Linked DNA regions of Homo sapiens: region 2 is linked to region 1. Evidence: fine-mapped expression QTL. Tissue or cell type: aorta. Region 1 holds a variant in brackets; the other region holds the start of a gene. All regions are shown on one strand. Distances are from middle to middle.

Region 1 (5,206 bases):
CTCGTTTCTGTAAAAAATACCCCAACACCACCAAAAAAAAAAAAAAAAAAAAAGTAGCTGGGTATGGGGCACGTGTCTGTAGTCACAGCTAGTCAGGAGGCTGAGGAGGGAGGATCACTTGAGCTCAGGAGGCAAGGGCTGCACGTGCATGCCACTGCAGTCCAGCCTGGGTGACAGAGTGAGACTCCGTCTCAGAATAAAATGAAATAAAGAAATAAAAAATGTAATTGTTGAAATAAAAAACTCAGTGGATGGATTAGACATCAGAAGAAAGAATTAGTTGGTTAGACAATTATCTCCCAAAAGTGAGTCAGTATGTTACACAGAGAGACATGAGGATAGATGATAGGGCAGAAGTTGGTGGGGTTGTAGGGGGAGGGAGATCAGAATGAGGTCTAAAATATGTCTTAGTGGAATCCCAGGAGGAGATATTAAAATTATATTAGAAAGTGAGAGAAATAGAAGTTCTAAAGGCAATAGAAGGAAGTCCACATAAATCAGTCACAACAAATGTAAATGGACTAAAGTTACCAGTTAGGTGGAACTAATAAAAGAATATCCAGCTGTTTTAATCCATCATATTTAAAATATAAGGATATGAGAAGATTGAAAGTTTTTATAAAGGAGAGAGAGTAATGAAGATATGGCAGTATACATTAACCAAAAACAAGTGATGGAGCTTCAGTATCAAAAAAGGATTTTGGAACAGAAAGCATTAGTAAGAAACTTGATGCTGACTGTTAATTAGGAGGATGTAGCAATTTTCATATTTTATGTACCTGTCAAAATAGCCTCAAAATGCAGGAGAAAAACTGATAAAACCACAGGGAGAAATTGACAAGTCTGCCAGCATATTTGGAGATTTCACCATACCCTGCTTACCATAAGTAAGTTACACAGAATGCCCATATGTAGATTTGAATAACCAGTGAATGGACATGGTGTAATGGACAAATATAGGCCTTTGTACCCAATAATTAGATATTCTATATTCTTCTCAAGCATATGTGGACTGTGGGAGAAACATTAATTATATATTAATTCGTAAAGCAAGTCAGAAGATTTAAAAACAATTGGTACCATCCACACCATATAATTTATAATTTAAATATGAAGCAATTAAGGTTAGAAGGCAATAATGAAGAGATTAACAAAAAGCTACATGAATTTGGAAATTAAACACCCTTGTAATTCATGGTATAAAAAACTCAATACAATTTTAGAATGCTTAGAATTGAACCATAGTTAAAATATGAAACTTCTCTCTGTTCCTGTCTCTCTCCCTCTCCCTCTCTCTTCCTATCTGGAACATTCAAGAAGCTAATCTTTTTCAATGAAGAACACCCCAAATACTGAAAAGTAGGAAAAAGACAGATGGCATTTCATGGTAATCCCTTCCCCCAAGAGTGTAGAATGTTTCTTTAGCTTCTTTGATAGTTTGTTTACTTATTTATTAAGTACTTACTATAAACCAGACTCTGCTTTAATTTGTGATGAACAACCTAGAGATTAAGTCCTGCCCTATGGATTTTATATTAGAGTGAGAAAAACAGATAGCTAAGTCTGGAGCTCAGGGGTGAGGCCCAGGTTGGAATTATAGATTCACTTGACCAAGGTGAAACCTGGTGTGCCCCCTCCTACTTCACATCCCCAGACATACTTCTGGAACATTTCTGTTCTATTCTTGTGTATAAACTCTTCCTTTTGAGCCTCTCTCCATTAATGCATGTCAACCTCTACTTGTCTTTTGTTGATTTTGAGGCCACTTGCCCATATAACTTGGAGGATATTGAAGAAGAATCATACCGACCTGGTTCTGCTACCTACCAGCTGAGTTACTTTGGTCAAGCTCTTGGACTTCTGAGGCTGTTTCCTAATTTCAAAAGTGGGTATATGATGTGTTAGGCCCTGGTGGGTTGCAAGGAAGAGGTACACACATACCACCTTTGATGATGAGGGCCGAATGTTAACTTGGATGGAAAGTCATCCAAACAGCGATATTGTCTCTGGCCCTAGTAATTTCAAAACCTCACAGAATATTAATTTAGCAGTATTTAGGATAGGGTTTGAGCTCTGAAGACCTACAGTATGGTTATTTGTTCATATGGCTGTTTTCCATACTAGACCATGAACTCCATGAGGGCAGGGTCTACAGTTTCATCTTTCTCTCCTAGGCACTCAGTTCAGTGCCTGATACATAATAATAGAGGCACAAATGTTTTAAGAGTTGAGGAATTTTCAACTCTTTCTGAAAGAATAGGAAGATATAAAGGCTTCTCAGAGACGGTATTATTTAAGCTGATTTTGTTTTTGTTTTTGAGATGAAGTCTTGCTCTCTCGCCCAAGATGGAGTGCAATGGCGTGATCTCAGCTCACTGCAACCTCTGCTTACCAGGTTCAAGTGATTCTTCTGCCTCAGTCTCCCGAGTAGCTGGGATTACAGGCATCCACCACCACACCCAGCTATTTTTTGTATTTTTAGTAAAGACGAGGTTTCACCATGTTGGCCAGGCTAGTCTCAAACTACTGATCTGAGGTGATCCGCCCACCTTGGCCTCCCAGAGTGCTGGGATTATAGGCATGAGCCACCATGCCCGGCTTATTTAAGCTGATTCTTTAAGGGTAAGTAGAAATTTTTTCC[A/T]GGTGAATAAAACCTTGAGCTATTATTCCAAGCAGAGACCAGTAGGTGCAAAGACACAGGGATATAGAGATGTTGAAGTTTACCAAACACTGCTAGATTAAAAAAACAAAAAGGAAACTATCAAAATCAAAAATTAAAATTAAAAATCACCTATAATACAAGCTATGAATGGGCTTGGCCAGAGGTCAGATCGCAACTGAGTTAACTATGACCGTAGACACTCAGTAATCGATGGAAGTTTTAGGGAAAACACATAACATTCTCAGGTTGTTGGCAGAGTATCTGGAACAATTTACAAATACGGGCATTGAATTCTGGGAATAATTACACTGTAGTGATATCATTTCCTTCTCTGCGTATGAAGCATGTATGTATTGCACACTGTTCAAGGTGCTGAAAATCAGACTCTTCTCGAGCAATCAAGGGAGATGGATGGGTGAGCAACTGATTATCATGTGACAAGTGAGGTAACAGAGATATGACTAAGATGGTATCTAAACAAGAAGAAAGGAATTATTCATAATATATGGAGTTCTGGGGAAATATTTCTCAAATGAAGCCGGCCGGGCCGGATGGCTCCCACTTGTAATACCGGCACTTTGGGAGGTGGAAGTGGGAGGATCCAGGAGGATCTAGGAGTTCAAGACCAGCCTGGTCAACAGAGCAAAGCCCTGCCTGTTTCTATATTTGAAAAAAAATAAGTAAATTTTTTTAATGAAATGATATTTGAGCACTCTGGAGCACCATACAAATATAGGACAGACTGAAGGAATGTACCTGGCTTGAGTTAACATTTATTGAAATTTTATATTGCAAAAATAGTACATATTCACTGTTTTGAAACTAGAAAGAATTGATAGGCAAGGAGGGCTGTCTACAAAGCACTCCATAGATCCACCATACTGAGACAATGCTTAATGCTTTGATGGATTTATTGTATACTATCTATGCATATGCATGTATTATATACATACATGTGCATGGTTAAATAGAAATATTTCTCCTTGGTGTTAATCCATTTATTGTTATGCAGTAAATCCCCAAAGAGCACATTTGCTTTGCCCAAGGGAGTCTTTTGCTACATACTGCTGTACATAATGAAAACTAAAAAATTGGCTAACTTTTCAGCCTTGTGACCTTGTGGTGATTCAAATAGAGGCTTCATCAAAGGCAGATTCAGAAATGAACTTGGTATGTGGGTGGTTATGCTTGGCATTATTGTTTGTAATAGTATGATAGGGATGACTTCAGTGTCCACCAACAGGGAACTGGTTAAGTAAACTGTGGTACATCCAAACGATGAATACTGTGCGGTTGTAAAGAAGAATGACAAAGACCTCTGTACTCATGTAGAAGAACTCACATATATTGTGTGTGTTTTAAGAGGAACAAGGAATGGTATAGTATGTATGGTATGCTACTTTTTGTGTTGAGAGAGAAGAGTAGAATAAGAATATACGTGTGTATTTGCAAACATAAATTCTGAAATGATATATAAGAAACCAATTAAAAGTGTTTGGCTGTAGAAGGAGAATAAGACTGTGAATGGGATTTGGCCACATACTTTTATAGGTAGTTATATTTAAAAATTTTCTGAACCATGTGTTTGTACACATGACCTTTTTAAAAATAAGTGAATGAAGGAATGAAGTAGGATTATGAGAAAGAGATAAGAACAAATGATCTAAGGGGCTGCCCATCTTTTTAGTACCCAGTGAATATTAATATATAACAATAGCAGCAAAAATTGGAAGAGTAGCCCCAGGAGGGTAGGGAGTCAGCCTTTCCTTTGTCTTTTCCTCAATTTCATATATTAAACAAAATAATCTGAGAACGATAAAACAATTTGAAATAAAAAATGTCTCCAGATCTCTTAAAAGGAAGCTGGGGCAGCTTTCTGTAGCGCACTTCCCAAAAATGGGCTGATTTACCTCAAGAGGCAGGGATTCTAGCCTACATGGGATACATACAGGAGAAAACAAAATCAGAAAAAGAAAAGATATTTAAATATAAATAAATGAAAATAACAATTCTCCCTCATTATAAAGGAAATCATTCTTTTTGTAATAATTTGGATGACAAATATTAAGAAAAATCTTTAATTTGCCACTCAAAACATTGTGGTTTGTTGCTTTTTATACGTTTTTATGCACATAAACCTTTTAAAAAGTAGAATCGTAGTATGTAGTCTTTTGTCACTTACTATATTTTGGGCATATTTCTGTGGCAGTAAATATATCCTGGCATCATCATTTTTAATAGCTGGATGTATATTAAGTTAATCACTGCCACCCCAGAGGTGAATTTTCTTATACACACATTTTAATGGGCTCGAGCAAACATTTTTGGACTGAATTCATAGAAGTAGAATTTCTGGAGGAAAATAATTTTTAGGGTTTTTAATAGAAATTTTCAAATCATTCTCCAGGAAAAGTGACTCAGGTTATACTCCCACCAACAAGGACAGAGCTCCAGGTTCCCCTTTCCATTTGTCATCTTTCCTGCCTTTATACAGAAAATCTCATTGTTTTCATGACATTTCTTTGATTTCTTGTGCTTTTGAAT
Region 2 (5,131 bases), 160 kb before region 1:
TGAGATTTTATGTGATATAAACAGGTGATTCTGTGTAAAGAATGTCAGGGGTATGCATAATTACTACAACTGGGTTGGAGTAAGCAAAGGAGGGTTTTTTTCCTTCAAGACAAGTCTTTATTGCACTTTAGGAACTTCAGCAAAGCTATGGAATCTCTGTATTGTTCAAACCAGAGACCAATGAGTAGGAGAACTGAAGATATTTAACACTGCTATCTGTCTGCAATGTAAATATGTATTAGCATATAATCCTAGAGCATCACTTTCCTGCTACCCAGTAAAGCTGAATTTATTCTAAGTACACCAAGTATATACCTCCCTAGAAAATAATTATCAAGCAAGCAGGAACTTTGCTTTATTCACAGCAGTATCCCTAGGACCAGAACAACGCTTGTCATATAGAAGACCTTCAGAAAATACTTGTTGAATGGATGAATCCCAGGTTTTTTAGGATAGTAGCAGCTTAACATAATTTTAAACAATACATTTAAAGTAATTTGTTACACCCCACTAACTTTCCACTTGAATAAATTCATAAAGAAAAAAAAAACCCTTTTATCAGCCTTCACATTCTCAAAATGTGAGCAGTAAAATTATAAAAACTCATGGAGGCAGGGGTTACTCACTGGATTTGTACTAAAACTCATTCACAGCTGGCTTCACTTGTAAGTGATCCACTATCTGTCTTTCTGTCAGTTTCCATACTCACATTACTTCAGCTCTTCTATCAATGACAACAGCCACCTAATCTCTGACTTTGGATCCATCCTAAGCATGTCTACCAATCTAATCTTTCTCATGTTTTATTTGATTACATCATTCCTGCTCCATGTTTTCCCCCAAAGGCTCCCTACTGCCTAATAGTAGACATTAATGATCGTTTTCATGGTGAAGCGTTTACCTTCCCTCTCATTATTATCACATTTAATCCTATAGCCTATAAAGCAGGTATAGTTTTCATCCTGTTTTACAGATGCTGTATATTGAAGCTCAAAAAGGCAAGGTATGTAACTTGAAAATGGAGATCTGAACTTAGGTTGTCTAACTCCAGAGCTGGAGCACTCAACTCTTATCCCAGTTCCTAGCTGGCATGAGCAGCTCTATGAGATATGACTCAGCCTGCTTCTTCACCTCGCCAACTGGTCCTTCATCTTCAGGATGGTAAATATGTTTTATTTCATATGCCCATCCCAATCACTTTGCTGTGGTTACCTAAACTACCAAGAGGTTTGAAATCAAGAGGAGGCTTAGCATGAAGGAGCGCTATGGAGTTACAGCAGTATCTGTCAGAAGAACATACCATGGGTTAGCTATCTCTGCCTTTCCCATATACTGGGCTTTGACCACATATATTTCCCTCTCCCCTTGATGACACATTCCCACCTGTAATGATTATCTCCATTTGTCATCTTGAGCCCCCTTCAAGTGTCATCTCTAATACTAATTATGTTGTGAGGTCTTTTCCTAACCCCTCACTTCCTAATCCTCTAGTTCTCCCAACCTTAGAGTCTACTTTTTTCTCTTGTTTGTCTCATTTTGCTCTGCTCCCCGTTAAAACCTCCCCTGGGCTAGTGCCCTACTCATAAATCTCCACCTTCAGACATACTAAGCAAAATATCTTGAACTTAACAGACGTTTGATAAATATCTGATGAATTAAATAGGATCACATACCACAGACTCTAAGGACATTATGTCAAGACTACAGACATTTTATATGTAAAGCCATTTCAAAAACAAAAAATTCAAGTTCTGCTTTAAAAAACAACATGACATAATATATAGAAGAATGCTACTCACTAGGTAACCGTGTTCATTTCAAATGCTTTATAGCAAAGCAGGCTTCCCTAACATCACACAAAACTTTTAAAGAAAGAAGACTTGCTTCTTAGCAAACATCACTCTCAGCTGTCCACAGCTTCACTCCACTGAGACATACAGAGACACATCTCCCTTATTTATCAAAATAAGCCATTTAAAAAGTATTCTTACCATGGTCAACATGAGCCAAAACACAAATATTCCTGATGTTGGCAGTGTTTTTCTGGAGTTGAATCATCTTATCCAAACTGTTGAGCACCATGATTACTTATTTCCTGTGACTAAAAATTAAATATGTATTACAAATGGCCCAGAGGCTAAAGGTCGGGGCAAAAGAAAAAAATAATAATAAACGCTGGGAGGTGGCAAGCTTCTCAAACCCCTTAAACCAAGAACCCAGTGAATGTTTATTGATGAGATAGACCACCAAGGCCTAAGTCCAGTTCGAGCACTAAAGTCAGTATCCTACCACGATTACACTTAAGGAGTTTGCTCATCCTTCCGGATCCAAAGGCTGCGATGAATCACGCAGCTCGAGGGGACTGGGTGCACAGTGACACCAGTAACCCTGCCGGTGGAGGAGTACTCCAGTAAACATCTCCAGGCCAATGACCACGTACAGGAAGGGTTGCATCCAGGAGGGAGAGAAAATGCTGAAGAAGATGCTCCCTTTCTCTCTTCAGTCTTCCCCCAAGTCCCTCATTCTGACATTCTCGCTCGTCCTCGCGCGAGGTCAAATACCCAGCTTTATTCCTGCCCATGGAGCCCGAACAAAGTTTTGGGTCACGTGCTTATTATCCAAGCAGGTGCACTGCCGGTCTTTCATTCCTTTCTAAATAAAAAGGAAAAACCTCTACACTACATGCCCTTCATTTCTGCAGGGTCCCAGATTCGTTCTCTTTGAGGATCCTGGGTCCACACAGACAGGCGACCGCCCCGGCCCCAGACGGGAAGCGGCACTCCGGGGACCGAAGCTCCCAGCCCGCGCTCGGCCCCAGCCCCTGTTCCCGCCTCAGAGCCGCAGCGAGCGGGTTCCTCCGGCACCGCCCAAAGGCTGGCCTAGGAGGTTCCAGCCCCCAGCGCCAGCCCACACTCACCGGCTGCAGCAGCCCCACCAGCCCCGCTCCTTCTCTCGGGTCGCACCCACACCGAGAGCTTCCGAAAGTCCGAGAGCTCTGCGGGTCCGACACGCCCGCGCGCCAGGGGGCGGGGCCGGCTGTCGCTCGACCTTTCACCCGCACGTCTCTGACGCCGCCGGAAGCCGGCGCCGAGTCTGTCACCGGGCATCCCTCTGTTGCCTTGACTACGGCGGGCGCTGTGGGAGTGGAGAAGCTGCAAGTGCTGAGGCGCGGTGGAGGAAAGCATGGGAGCCAAGAGTATGAGGAGCTGGTGTCTGTGTCAGATTTGTAGCTGCGGGTAAGAAACGGCTGGTGTAGCGGCGGGCCCGGGCTTGGGAGCCGACCTAGGGCCTAGGTGCACGGAGCCGGCTCCTCGGGAACCCTGAGAGTGGCCGTCCCCCGGAGATGAAGGGACGAGGGCGCAGCGACATCCCCACTTATCCCGCTCCGCGAATACTCGCTCCTCACCCGCCTGCTACCCGGGGGTAAAACGTTTGTTCGTAGCCCCTGAGACTCCCAATCAAGGATGCAAAGTAAAATGCCACCCGGGCCAGGTAAGTAATATATGTGAAGCCGCGACGGGATATAACGCTGGTGAGTAGTGGGATGTGATCCGACTGGGAGAGTGCATTTCCACCCCATAATCCCCCACCACGAAGATGAGAAAGAACAGTGCTCAAGGCCCTGAGTCTGCAACCCATATCACATTTTCTTTCATCTGTAGCTTTCTGTCCTCCCAGCCAGACCATATTCCCATTCCCGTCCAGGCAGCAGTTCTTTGGGATCCGCCTGACTGAAAAGTCAGTAAGTAGTCCCTACCCTGAAATCTAGAATCCAACTGTGAGTCCTGCCTAACAACCTTCCATCACCTGTAAACACAGTCCTCTCCTTCCTCAGCTTCACTATTGACCCAGGGATTAGATCATTATTTGCTAAGTAAATATGAACGTTGTCAATCCCTGGTGTATTTGTAATCCCATTCAAAGAAAACACCTACATGTTGATGGAAAGCAGTTTTTTTAATAGTCTCATAATAAACACAGTTCATAATTATATATAGATTAAAATATCAACAAATTAACTTTGGGTGTATGAATCCTCAGACTGGTGTGCAGGAGAAAATTTTTACTTTTCTCCTAATTTATATTCAACGCAAGTTCCTTTCTCATTCAACTGTAAGGAAATTCAGTCTTCATTATGTTGAGGGCCACCATTGGAATGGCGTGATTTTACTTCTTGTTTGTTTGTTTTGGGCTGTGGTTGTTAGTTTTGTCTTTTTAAGGGTTTATTTTTATTTTTTGACAATGCAATAAATACACAAGAAGTATCATAAAAATCTAAGCAAAAATATCTATAATATTGTAAAACGCCTTCATAATTCTATCTTCCACAGATAACAAATGTTCTTTAAGACTTGTTTTACATATGCATTGATTTTTTTTTTTTTTTTTTTTTGAGACAGAGTCTGGCTCTCTTGCCAGGCTGGAGTGCAGTGGCGCAATCTCGGCTCACTGCAATCTCCGCCTCCCGGGTTCAAGCAATTCTCCTGCCTCAGCCTCTCTGAGTAGCTGGGATTACAGGCTCGTGCGACCACACCCAGCTAATTTTTGTATTTTTAGTAGAGACGGGGTTTCACCATGTTGGCCTCCATCTCCTGACCTCATGATCTGCCTGCCTCGGCTTCCCAAAGTGCTGGGATTACAGGCGTGAGCCACTGCGCCTGGCCTGCATTGATTTTTTTTTTTTTTTAACAAAAAAAGAGAATATTCTGAGCATACTATTCTACAATCCGGTTTTTTACTATTTACAATCTCACCAACTTCCAATGATCATGCATAAAGACCACCCTCATTCTCTTAAATAACTGTATACTATTAGCTTATATGATATATTGGTCAAGGTTCTTAGTTGTGGATAACGTAATCTCCTCTGGTTAGTCTAGGCAAAAAGGAATTTATTAAGGAGTATATATATAGTTCACTTGGAAGAACTTAAGAAATCATTTTCAAAATAAGCTTCCACAAAAATTTTACCACAGACCAGGACTGACAAGGGAGCCACTGCCTCTGCCATAATCAGAAAATTGCAACAGAGCTGTAGACTCCAGAATCACTCGTCTCTTCCAAGGTCAAGAAGCTGCCAAGTTAGGAAACCAGCTTGCAAATCAAGATGCCGCCTAACAACTTCTAGCTC

Direction of the effects. Alleles are on the strand shown, and positions count from the first base shown. SD is a standard deviation of normalised expression in the study named.
For the expression in aorta of the gene that starts at base 3,122 in region 2, allele T in region 1 goes with a higher level than allele A (large effect, 1.8 SD a copy in GTEx).

Evidence for each region. PIP is the estimated chance that this variant, and not a neighbour inherited with it, causes the effect.
Region 2: SAXO2 starts here. The variant in region 1 is fine-mapped to the expression of SAXO2 in aorta (GTEx, PIP above 0.99).

What each region holds. Positions count from the first base shown.
Region 1 is chr15:82,421,772-82,426,977 of GRCh38, forward strand. It overlaps a transcript of GOLGA6L9 not described here. Among named protein-coding and RNA genes, the nearest start is that of GOLGA6L9, 5.4 kb to the right of the region's middle. The variant A/T (reference allele first, on the strand shown) is at 2,642.
Region 2 is chr15:82,259,697-82,264,827 of GRCh38, forward strand. It overlaps SAXO2 (stabilizer of axonemal microtubules 2), which reads left to right and starts at 3,122. Exons shown (of 4, transcript NM_001348699.2): 1 at 3,122-3,236. The coding sequence starts at 3,184. It overlaps EFL1 (elongation factor like GTPase 1), which reads right to left and starts at 3,038. Exons shown (of 20, transcript NM_024580.6): 1 at 2,918-3,038; 2 at 1,992-2,101. The coding sequence starts at 2,082. RefSeq lists a silencer at 968-1,154 and enhancers at 3,163-3,252, 3,273-3,342.